3 linked regions of the Homo sapiens genome follow. The protein of the gene in region 3 interacts with the protein of the main gene of each other region in a pairwise test. Each region holds a gene or a part of one and is shown on either strand. Other genes may lie near its edges.

Region 1 (2,874 bases), on a different chromosome or scaffold from region 3:
TTAAAAGTCAGGATTTCATGTACCAAGAATGACCTACTTGAAGGAGATTTTGCTACACTCTTAGAGTCCCAAAAATTCCCCTTTAAAAAAAATGCTGTCCTACAGAAGGTGTATAAACTATACCTTAGCCATAATTCAATTTAATGAAATACTACCCCATTAAAAGCCATCCTCCTGCCTCATACCGATTCAGAAATTAAATTCTGAACTTTTAGTGTAGGCATTAGGAATCACTTAGCCACTTAATAAGGACTGAGATTCTTGGGTGGCAGAAAAATCCTGGTGTGCTAGATTCTTAGTCACTTTAAACTGCATAGAAGTAATGAGCATAGGCTTCAGTATATTTAATAAGGTGCTGAGGCAGCAGATTCAAATGCAAAAGAGGGAGGAACCAGTTATTCCAAGGCAGGATGATGCACCCCCACACAGAGTGTGGAAAAATTAAAGTGAAACAAAGATTTGGACAGTGTCATTAGGAAGCCTGAGGAGAACATGCTACAAGGCCAGATCCTGTCCTATGGAAAATAAAAAAGATCAGCAGAACTAAAGCAAAAGCAGTCATCTCCAGTGTGTGGGCCTTAGCAAAGAGTAAACCAAATACCTCTCCTTGTGTTAGGAGCACTGTTATATTCCCAGCTCAGAGATGATTGTGTGCTGGGAAATGCTTATATTCATTATTTCCCAACTAATGCATTTGGACATATGTATTCCAGTTTTTCAAAGACACTACCCAAAGCTTCTTTACATTTGCATTGGTTATATTTAATATTTCTTAAGCTAAGATCACTGATTATCCACACGTTATTAGAAATCTTTGGTTACAGTGAGGCTTAACCTGGGCTAAAGTCTCCTAAATGGGACTACACTTAGATCCGCCCTATTTCACCTTTGGACTAACGTTGACTAAATGGCTCCTAGAGTTACCCACAGAGGGAGCTTACTATGATGAGAGCTACTGTGGGGAAACATAGTATTCAACAGAGAAATGGAAGAATACAAGTAGCAATGTTCCTTGTCTTCAATAACATTTGAGGGAAAGGAATCTAGAAATCCTAAAGCTTAGTCAGGGTGCCTAAGGTAAGACACAAAAAGAAAGAGACATCCAGAAAGGAAGGTTGAAAGGAAATGAAGGGCAGTAACAAAGCACCAATGTAAAATGACCCATAGCCAACAATAAATGCAATAACAATAAAGGAAACTAACCCTCACAAAGGGTTTGAGGAGCTTCCTGCTGTGTGTCCTTAAACAGTGCGTGCCTCTTAAGTCTCTACAACACTTTTTTAAAGGGCATTGAATTGGACATTGGTTTAATTTTTACCTACGCTCCCTATAATCTCAGGAGGTAACCATTATTTAATCAGAATTACCCTTGCTCTGTTTATCTGTGAGGCCTCAGACACAACGGTGGTTCAGCCCTCTCCCTAAGCAGTAGCAAGCTGAGTAATGGCACACATATGTCTAGGATAGCCAGCATTCAGGAAAATTGCTGTGAACCTCCTGTTTTTAATTTTAATATAGAAAAAGTCTTTCAGGTTTGTGACACGAAGACAGATTTAGCTTCCCACTTGTCAGCAAATTTGTAAAAACCTCAAAACAAATGAATATTTGGAATTCACTCTAAGAGATACAAATCCTGAATTTCTAACTATCTTCTCAAATATTACTGAGGCCAGCAAGATGCAAGTGTTCTACAAAATAATGAACTGTTCTAAGTGACAGTGTTGATGCTGGAAGTGGAATGTTATGTTTTCGCTCAGCTGTATTCATTCAGAAAGTTTTTCTTGAACATCTGCCACATGAGGTGCAGAGAATACTACCAGGTGCTAGTTTTTCCAGTATTTGACTTCTGATTACTATTTCCTTTTCTCATCTTTAGTTTTTCAAGATTTTGCTTTACCAAAATAGTAAAGCCTTTATCATCAGCTTATATTGAATAATGTTGTAATTGGTTTCAATCAAAGTTTCTCCTCAGGTACTTGGGGGCCCCTAGCCTTCTAAGGAACTCCCAGGCACCTACTTAACAAGGCCAGCTACACACTCAGTATGTGATAAGCCCCATGATGGATGCAGGTTAGAATTCAAAGACCTGGTTGGAGTCCTAGATGTGGAGACAGGATGATCAGGTCACACTTGTTAGATGACTAACACTATCAGTAGAAGCTCTTGAGAGATTTTCCTAACGCAGCAAGATTTCTGTGAGTAGAGGTATCCTGGGAGGTATCCTGGGAGGCAGCCTATTGACTTGACCAAGTAAGCTGATCAGGTGGCCTCCTCTACCCACTAAAGAAATGTGTAAACACTAGCAATAATTGCTTTATCTTAAACTCCTGGACATACTCAGTTCTTCCATTCCACTGTTCTATTGCCAATACCTTTTGTTGTTTTCTTCACACTCCTCTTGGCAGCAAATGTCTGAAAGTATTTCAATTGTGTAATGTTAAGGAGTTTTTTCATAGCTTCAGAAAAGAGGGCAGCAAATATGAAGCCTTAAGTTCAAAATAAGTCATTCTACCTAGAAATACAGACCCCAGAGCACATTGCATGAAAATACCTGTACTCTGCAGTTCCTCAAAGCAGTATTCTTCCTGAAAAGCCAAACACCACACCTATTTTCCTATTTGCTAAGAATCAGAATAAGCACGTTGTAAATAGTATCCAAAGCAGATTCTAAAATGACATAGTAAGAAGCCAGATTCAAATTGTAACCAAAGAAGACAATAGAAATCCCACTTTACCCCACTGTCATCAGTTAGAACACCCTTGCAAAAACTGTAACCACTTAAGCAATTCATCTGATCCCAGAAGATCATACCTTCTTTTGAAAGTATAGGACAGATATCAGTGGGAAACGTCGGCGTTCTGAGCAACACAGGA
Region 2 (4,131 bases), on a different chromosome or scaffold from region 3:
CAAGTGCTCCTCCTTCCTCGGCCTCCCAAAGTGCTAGGATTACAGGTGTGAGCCGCTGTGCCTGGCCTTATTTATTTATTTTGAGTTGTCAGTCCATTTTACAGATGAAGATGCTGAGACTCGGAGAGGTCAAGAAACACGCTTCACATCCAGAAAGATGGTGGAGCTGGGATTCAAACCCAGGTGTGGGATTTTGGAATCTTAATTCCTTATGCTAAGGGAGGAGACCACCCCTCATATTGTCTTATGCCCAATTTCTGCCTCCAAAGAAAGAAAAAGTAAAAACTAAAAGGCAGAAATGAAATCCACAAGCAGACAGCCCAGCGCCACACCCTGGGCCTGGTAGTTAAAGATCGACCCCTGACCTAATCGGTTATGTTATCTATAGATTACAGACATTGTATAGAAATGCACTGTGAAAATCCCTTTCCTGTTTTGTTCCCACGTAATTACCGGTGCGTGCAGCCCCCAGTCACGTACCCCCTGCTTGCTCAATTGATCACGACCCTCTCACACGCACCCCCTTAGAGTTGTGAGCCCTTAAAAGGGACAGGAAATGCTCACTCGGGGAGCTCGGCTCTTGAGACAGGAGTCTTGCTGATGCCCCCGGCCGAATAAACCCCTTCCTTCTTTAACTTGGTGTCTGAGGAGTTTTGTCTGCGGCTCGTCCTGCTACAATGCCACATGGAATTCAAGTGCAGAGGGACACCTGGGATCTAGAGAGGGGGCATGATTGGCTGAAGGTCGCACAGGTTTCATGAGAAAAGCCAGGGCCCCTTCCCCTCTCCTGCCTCCCCCAACGCCCGTGGCTCCGGTAGGTCTGATGCCAGACTTTTCCTTGGCCAGGTCCTGCAGGGGGCGGGGCATCCCGGGCACGGGAAGCTTTCTATAAATGGAAGTGGAAGGGAGCCGGCCTCTGCGCTCCCGCCCTCCCGGGACAGCTGAGGACACAGAGCCGGAACCACGGCTTTTTCCACACAGGCTCCAAGTGGACTGGGTTTGTTGGGACAGGATCTGGGCGCTCCCTGCAGGGTTTTCTGGCTGTGTCCTGCAGAGGAGGCTGGGGCTGCTGACTTTGCAGAGCTCAAGGAGGGCTGGGTGTCCCCTCGCAACCAGGACCCAGTATACCTGCTTACTAATTTGGACACAGCTTTTGTGCCACGCTGGGCAAGCGTCCTTTCCTCTCTGGGCAGACCTCAGTTGTCCCATCTGTGTGATGGGGATGTGATAATAACAGACACTGAACACCTTGCATTTTCTCAACAGCTCTCTGAGGAGGGTGCTATTGCTGCAGGGCTGGAGAGGTTGAGGAATTTGCCCAAGGTCATACAACCCCAACTGTGAATTGGGGTTTAAACCCAGGTGGTCTTGCTCCACGGTCCCACACTTTTAGCCTCTGCTGCTGCTTCACATATTTAAGAACCCTGTCCACCGCTGCCCCTTCTGGGATTCTGGAACCAAGAGGGACAGACCTGGAGCTGAGCAAAGGGCAGGCAGCCCCTACGCTCCTCTTCAGCCTCCCCTCACTTTTAAGGCTCTGCGTCGCCCTTGGATGTACCAAGGCAGGGCTCCATCTTACTCCTGTATTCCTGAATGCTGCCCCCTTCGCGGCCCCGCACACTCCTCTAACTTGCTCTTTCTTGCTGTAAGTGGTGGGGAGAGTCCCTGGGCCCGGGGCTCTGTGTGGTTGGGAGGCACGGGGCGGGGGCAAGGAGGGCTCCAGCCACCTCTGCTCTATTTGTAGGTGCCCCCTACCCGCTCCCACTTCTGATTCTGACTCAGATCTCTTTCTTTGTTCCCAAGGACTCTGGGGAGTCCTGGTGCCTTGGCAAATCCCCTCTTCCGTGTCATTGCCAACCTCTTCTCCTGACTTACTCTCTCCCAATGAGCCCAGGTCAGTGAAGGGAGAGGGTGGGGCAAGGGTAAAGCCTGAGTCTCCCCCAAAGCACTTTGCCTCATTAGCCCAATCTCCACTGCACCCCCTATTTTTGAAAACTGGCTCCCGATCTTCCCATCCCTCCCACCCAGACCCGGTGACGCAGGACGTGGACCTCAGGCAGGGACCCATAGGACCAGTGAAGGCCAGCCGCCCCATCTCCCAGTCCTGTCTACCTCTGAAGTGCCCAGAGGGCTCCCAGAGCGCTGGGAGGCGAGAGGCCTGGGTTCTGTGTCCAGTCCCTTTCCATGACCTCAGGCAAGCCTCTTCTCTGTGGCCCTCAGCTCTCTCATCTATTTGCCGAGGGGCACAGGTTTAGTTCCCTTGAACTGCTGAACTCCGCGGTCTGTGATCCTGAGACCATCTCTGTCTCATCCACATCCTCCACCCCATTTCTCCCCACCTTCACTCTGAGCCCTGAGAAATGGAGAAGCTGAAGACAAAAGGTTAAATGAGGCTGGGCTCACGCCTGTAATTCCAGCACTTTGGGAGGCTAAGGTGGGAGGATCACCTGAGGTCAGGAGTTTGAGACCAGCCTGGCCAACATGGTGAAACCGCGTCTCTACTAAACATAAGAAAATTAGCCGGGCATGGTGGCAAACATCTGTAATCCCTGTTACTTGGGAGGCTGAGGCAGGAGAATCGCTTGAACCCTGGAGGCAGACGTTGGCAGTGAGCCGAGATCGCGCCACTGCACTCCAGCTTGGGTGACAGAGCAAGACTCCATCTCAAAAAAAAAAAAAAAAATGTTTAAATGAATCAGGGCCAGCAAAGGTGCTCCGTGTTCCTCTCTTCTTAAAGAATAAAGGCACCTACCTGGTGTCCACAGGTGGGCAGACTGTTGCCTTCACTACTGGCTCCTGGGACCAAGACGACTCAGAGTCCAGGTGAAGAGTCAGGAGAGGCGCCAGTTCACCTCCAGACCTGCCTTAAAAGCAGCTTGCCCGCCTTCTCTCCTCCCCTCCGGGCGGGCCCTGCACGTGGCCCTGACAGCAGTAGGCCCCACCCCTGCTGGATCCAGTGAGCTCAGGTGGGGCTGGCACAGGCAGCAGGAAGGGAAGCACTGGGTGGTGGGTTTTGGGTCTGGGTGTGTGTGAGGGGCTCCCAAGTTCCTGCTTGGGCTTCTCGTGGCACCACATGGCCAGGGAGTCCTTGCTTGGACAGGGCATAGCTAGAATCAAGGTGTGCAGTGGGCACTCCTCAGGTGCTGGCTGGGGCAGAGGCCATGGGTTGGCAGAGCTGGCAGAGAGTGAGGGCCTTGACAAAGCAGGATGCCAGTGGGCAGGAGACCCTCTGCAGTCCCCCTTTGTGCTGGGTCACACTGGGACAGGCACAGGGTAAGGGCCCACTGGAAGTAAGGCTAGGCACGAGCTTGTCTTTTCTTCTTTCTCTCCTTTTACAGTAATGACTCTAGCTTGGGATGGGGCCTCTAACTCAAGGAAAGGAGGCTGAAGTGTCTGGAGGGCTTTGAGAAGGGGCTTATAGCTGTTCCTTCACTCATGGGCTATCTCTGTCCCTCGTCTGGTCTGTGCCCCAGGGTGGAAGTTCCCTGAGGGGAGGACATTGGAGGGTGAGATCAGGAAGCCCAGAAGTCTGGTCTGGTAGCTCCTTCTCCATGGTTCCAACTCTCTCCCTGTTCTAGAGGGGCAGGGGTCCTAGAATGTTGTAAGGAGGTGTTCAGACATGGTGAGGGGAGGGTGCTGATGGCAGAGCCTGGTCTGGGAGCGGTCTGAAGTGAGGGAGCTGGCGAAGTCTCCAGCCCAGGGACTCATGGTGATCCCAGTAGGCTAATCTCAGGGGTGGGTTGCCCCATGCCCCCATTATGCCCAGTGGAAGGGCTTCTGGCCTTACAGTTTTTGATGCCCTGGGGTTTCACTGAGGCATGGTGAACTAGTGCATGGGAGGCCGGTGAGCAAAGCTATGGAAAGTTATATAAGGTGCCCCTTCCTGATGGTGACATAAAAGGTGTCCCTAGGTGTCCATGCAGCCTTGTTGGCACATGGCTTGATGAGCAATTATGTCTTTGGATGAAAAATGTGGTGCTCCTGCCCTGGAGTGGATGTCACTGCACATGGCGGCTTCCCCCATGAGGCTGTGGCTCATGATTGTGGGAGAGTGGGAGGGGCGACTCGTGAGTTTCTTGAGTGGAAGGGGCAGGTTACAGTAGGGCGAAGTGTTGGGCAGAGACTGTGGCA
Region 3 (4,148 bases):
AGTGCAGTGGCGCGATCTTGGCTCACCGCAACCTCCGCCTCCTGGGTTCAAGCGATTCTCCTGCCTCTGCCTCCTGGGTAGCTGGGATTACAGGTATGTGCCACTGCGCCAGGCTAATTTTTGTATTTTTAGTGGAGATGGGGTTTTGCCATGTTGGCCAGGCTGGTCTTGAACTCCTGACCTCTGGTGATCCGCCCACCTCAGCCTCCCAAAGTGCTAGGATTACAGGTGTGAGCCACCACGCCAGGCCAAGAAGAGTTTTGAAGAATAAGCAATGATTGTGCTGGACCTTGAAAAATGGGTAGGATTTAGACTGGGGTGGGTGGGGGTAAGAAGGAAGAGTACTGAAGGTGGTAGGAATGGCCTCTGTGTGTCTGTGCTTGCTCGCTCTTGTGCTTGAAATGTTCAACTAAGGGGCTCACACCACCAATTACTAGAAGGACATGGTCTTGCCAGCACTCTGCAGAGAAGCCACACAAACTCATCCTACCAAAGGCTTTGGAATGGCTCAATTCATATCTTTTCCTTGGCCATTTGCTCTTCTTTGGATTCTGGGAAATAGTATGGGATTCTTTCTAAATTCTCCCCCGCACTCCTTTTTTGGCTAGATTGGTTTGTTGACTGGTTTCTGCTACTTGCAACCAAAAGAATCTTATTGAGTATGAACACACATCTTTGATGATGGTAATTTATGTATATCCCACCACCTAAAATCAGAAAAAACTCGAGAGAAAATTTTAAAGGTTATGTATATAAAGCACATCCTATAAAAAGAACTGAAGGCTTCTAGTTAAGATTCTGTCACTAAACAGCAGTGTTACTTTGGAGAAGTTATTTTACATCTCTGGGCCTCAGCATCCATAATAATGATATTACTAGAATGTCTGAGATCTCTTCTAGGTCTCTTTCACTAAATAAAAATGCTAGCCTTCCTCTCCAACTGGGGATGTTTTATTATTTCATTAGTGTTATTTTGTTTGCTCTAGTACTTTCCAAAAGACCTAGATATAATTAAATTTTCTTTGAATAGAAAGAGAATAACAAAATGTTAAGAAGCTGCCCAAGGCTTGAAAATATTTAAATTTGTGCTCTATGCTGGATTATCCTGCCCTATATCTGAACTTGACATACACTCTATGTCAAAGAACTGAGGAGAAATGATACTGGCACTTTTTTTAAAAAGTTAAGGGCATCCCTAGTTTGAAGAAGTTAAAGGAATAAGCAAGCAGCAACACTGCTTATTAGCATTGGCATGTAAGTAATGAAATCAAGTATGTTAGGAAGTCTTAGGCATCAGGAAGTTACACTCATTCATTTCCACAAGACCTTCTGGATCCAGCTGAATGTGGAGGCCTTTAAGAGAACTTCCAGCTCCTGTAAAAACCCAGACCAGAGGACTACTGACCAACATTTCAGGCTGATCCTCCAGACCTCGAAGTTACTCTCCTTACTCTCCTGACTCTTAATTACATCACACCTGTGTCGACACTCTCTGGGAAAAGACTGAAGAAATAATCTTTTCAAGAAGCAGGTACATTTAAAAGGCAAACCATTTTTAATATTCCTAGTAGTCTCCTTTCTTCTCATTTAAAATATGTTCCTAGAAGTTTTTTTGCCTGTGGTTCTGAGTTGAGGTCTACTAATAAAAGGTACTAGCATCTTAACAAACCAGTTAGGCAAACTTTCTATCCCTGTATTATTAAAAAGCTGCTCTTTACTTGTGAAGTAATATTCTGATCTCTATTTGATCTTCAGGAATTTTGCCACGCATGGTGGCTCACATCTGTAATCCCAACACTTTGGGAGGCTGAGGCAGCAGCATAGCTTGAGCCCAGCCTGGGCAACAAAGTGAGACCCAGTCTCCACAAAAAGATAAAAAAGTTAGCCAGGTATGGTGGGGTATGCCTGTGGCCCCAACTATACGGGAGTTTCCTAAGGCAGGAAGATCACCTGAGCCCAGGAGGTTGAGGTTGCAATACACTCCAGCCTGGGTGACAGAGCAAGACCCTGTATCAAAAAATAAAATTTAATTTTATAAAAGTTATAAAATAATTTGCCTAATTTTAACATCAAGCAGCCACATTGTTTTGTCTCTCCCTCTCTCTCTCATCTCCCTGCAAAATTCTTTCCCTCCTCCCTGTCTGTTAATTTTACTTTCTTGTGATACGGAGGGAATAGCTCACAGAGCTGCTCAAATATTTCATCAACTATAAGATGCTATCATTTGTAATAGCAACCATTATTTTACGTGCCACCAAGACAAAATACTGCTGCTAAACTTTGACAAGCTAACGATATTAAGATGTACCTCAGTTATAGAAATGGTAAATATGAAAAAAATGTGTGATATGATAGAGTTCTCCATCCCTAGTTTATAACTCCTCCCTACTCTGTAAGAAACCACATTTGCTCCCTTGAGCCATCACATCCTGTTCTCCTGTTCAGATCCTCTTCTCTCTTCTCCACACCACCTCATCACTGAAGACACAAGCAGATGTTAAGTGATGAGAAAATCAGAAGGAACAGTGGCAGGCGCTAGTATACGGTAACAGAGACCCTCTTTAGTCATTTACTTCCTAACTGTACTACCTTTACAAGAGTTTTCAAAGTTATGCCCTTCATTTTGAGATTGTAGATAATGGTTATTAGCTTAAAATATCTTCTTCCCAAAGAGAAAGTAAAATTGCATTTTGCCAAATAGCACTATAAAAATGAGTTCTGTACAATATTATAATTTTAATGTTCATTTGATGGCTTACATAAGTGCTATGCTCATCTGGTTACAATAGAATTTTCCAGTAAATAATAACGCACAGGTTATATTTCAAAAAAAAACTTCATTTTTAAAAAACTTAAGGTATGACTTCTGCTTACAAAATTATAAAACACAGGTTTCCCTGAAATACTCATTTTCCAAAGTACATGTAAAACATGAATTAATATGACTTATAAATTGTCAAGATTGCCTCTGTAGTGAAAATCAAAGAAATGTGGAATGGAATTTCACCTGAACTTCTGAGCTAGTCTGTTGTCTTTATTTGTGCTCCTTTTGACACATAGTGCCTTATGTTTTTCTATACTCCTCAAATGAAGCTAAAACATTTACCAATGTAGGCAATTTTCCTGGGCTTCCTTGAAGACGCAGTTCAACACTGCAAAATATTTACAGCTGTATTCTTTGGACTGCAATGACATGTTCACACGACCTTGTGGCCAGAGGTTACGTCCTATTAGTCCTAGGAAGGTTCAAGTACTTGGCACAGTTTGTGAGATGCTGTGGTCAATCAGTTACATAAAGTGGCTGCCATAGTACTTTTGTTAGTGTAATACCAGTAGCAGACAACATTTAGAGCAGATAAATTTTATATTTCAAAATAGAACTAAAATTTGGACACTCAAAAAGAATTACATTAACATGGGAAAATCCTTGATTCTTAAAACATGTCAATAATTAGACAGTGTAATTTTTATTTTTAACACACAAAAGAAGCCAACACAAAATATTCATACCTCAATATCAAAATGAATGTTTCTTACATTCAGTGCTATTGACAAGAGGCAATGAAGCAAGTACATGTTAAAAAAAAAGAAACTCAGCTTGTGAAAGGCAGAGGAAGGTCAAAACACAGATCAATAAACAAAAAAACAAAAAAAAAATGTGGGCAAGTCCAAGGCAGAGATATACTGTCAGATTTAAGTAAAAAGTTGACAGCAGCTTCTCTAGCTTTTACTTTCTTTCTAAGGTAATGGGAATGAAATCCTTTTAAAAGACAAGCAGAGAAGCATGCAGCTGACAACAACCAAGATTTGATAGCAGGGGAGAATGTGGAGACAGAAGCTCCCTGTTCTTATCAAACGCAGCTTCTAAAACCATTCCTTTTCCTTGAAGAGTGTCTGAATTTTATAGAGGAATGATCTGTTAAGTCTAGGAGAATTATCATACTTTTTGTATCTTCCAGTCGGGAGGGATAACCTCCTGGTAAGGTTTCACTTCCTTCCATGGCATGGGAGTATCTCTGGCATATAAATGGAGCAAGTGTATATATTACAATGATGTCCTGCATCAATCACGGGATGACAAAGACCTCATTTCCCATAAGGAGTTGGTAAAAAGATGGGAATTCCTGCTGGAATGAGTTCTGCCTTAT

What was found.
Region 1: the proteins of KCTD4 (region 3) and FER interact in a two-hybrid assay, tested with the Homo sapiens proteins (one large-scale study listed by BioGRID and IntAct).
Region 2: the proteins of KCTD4 (region 3) and TNS4 interact in a two-hybrid assay, tested with the Homo sapiens proteins (one large-scale study listed by BioGRID and IntAct).

What each region holds. Positions count from the first base shown.
Region 1 is NC_000005.10:109,191,844-109,194,717, forward strand, and holds part of FER (tyrosine-protein kinase Fer), read left to right. Parts: 3' UTR 1-2,874. UniProt on the Homo sapiens protein: Tyrosine-protein kinase that acts downstream of cell surface receptors for growth factors and plays a role in the regulation of the actin cytoskeleton, microtubule assembly, lamellipodia formation, cell adhesion, cell migration and chemotaxis.
Region 2 is NC_000017.11:40,498,782-40,502,912, forward strand, and holds the start of TNS4 (tensin-4 precursor), read right to left. Parts: upstream 2,843-4,131; 5' UTR 2,753-2,842; intron 1-2,752. UniProt on the Homo sapiens protein: Promotes EGF-induced cell migration by displacing tensin TNS3 from the cytoplasmic tail of integrin ITGB1 which results in dissociation of TNS3 from focal adhesions, disassembly of actin stress fibers and initiation of cell migration.
Region 3 is NC_000013.11:45,198,207-45,202,354, reverse strand, and holds the start of KCTD4 (BTB/POZ domain-containing protein KCTD4), read left to right. Parts: upstream 1-1,309; 5' UTR 1,310-1,531; intron 1,532-4,148.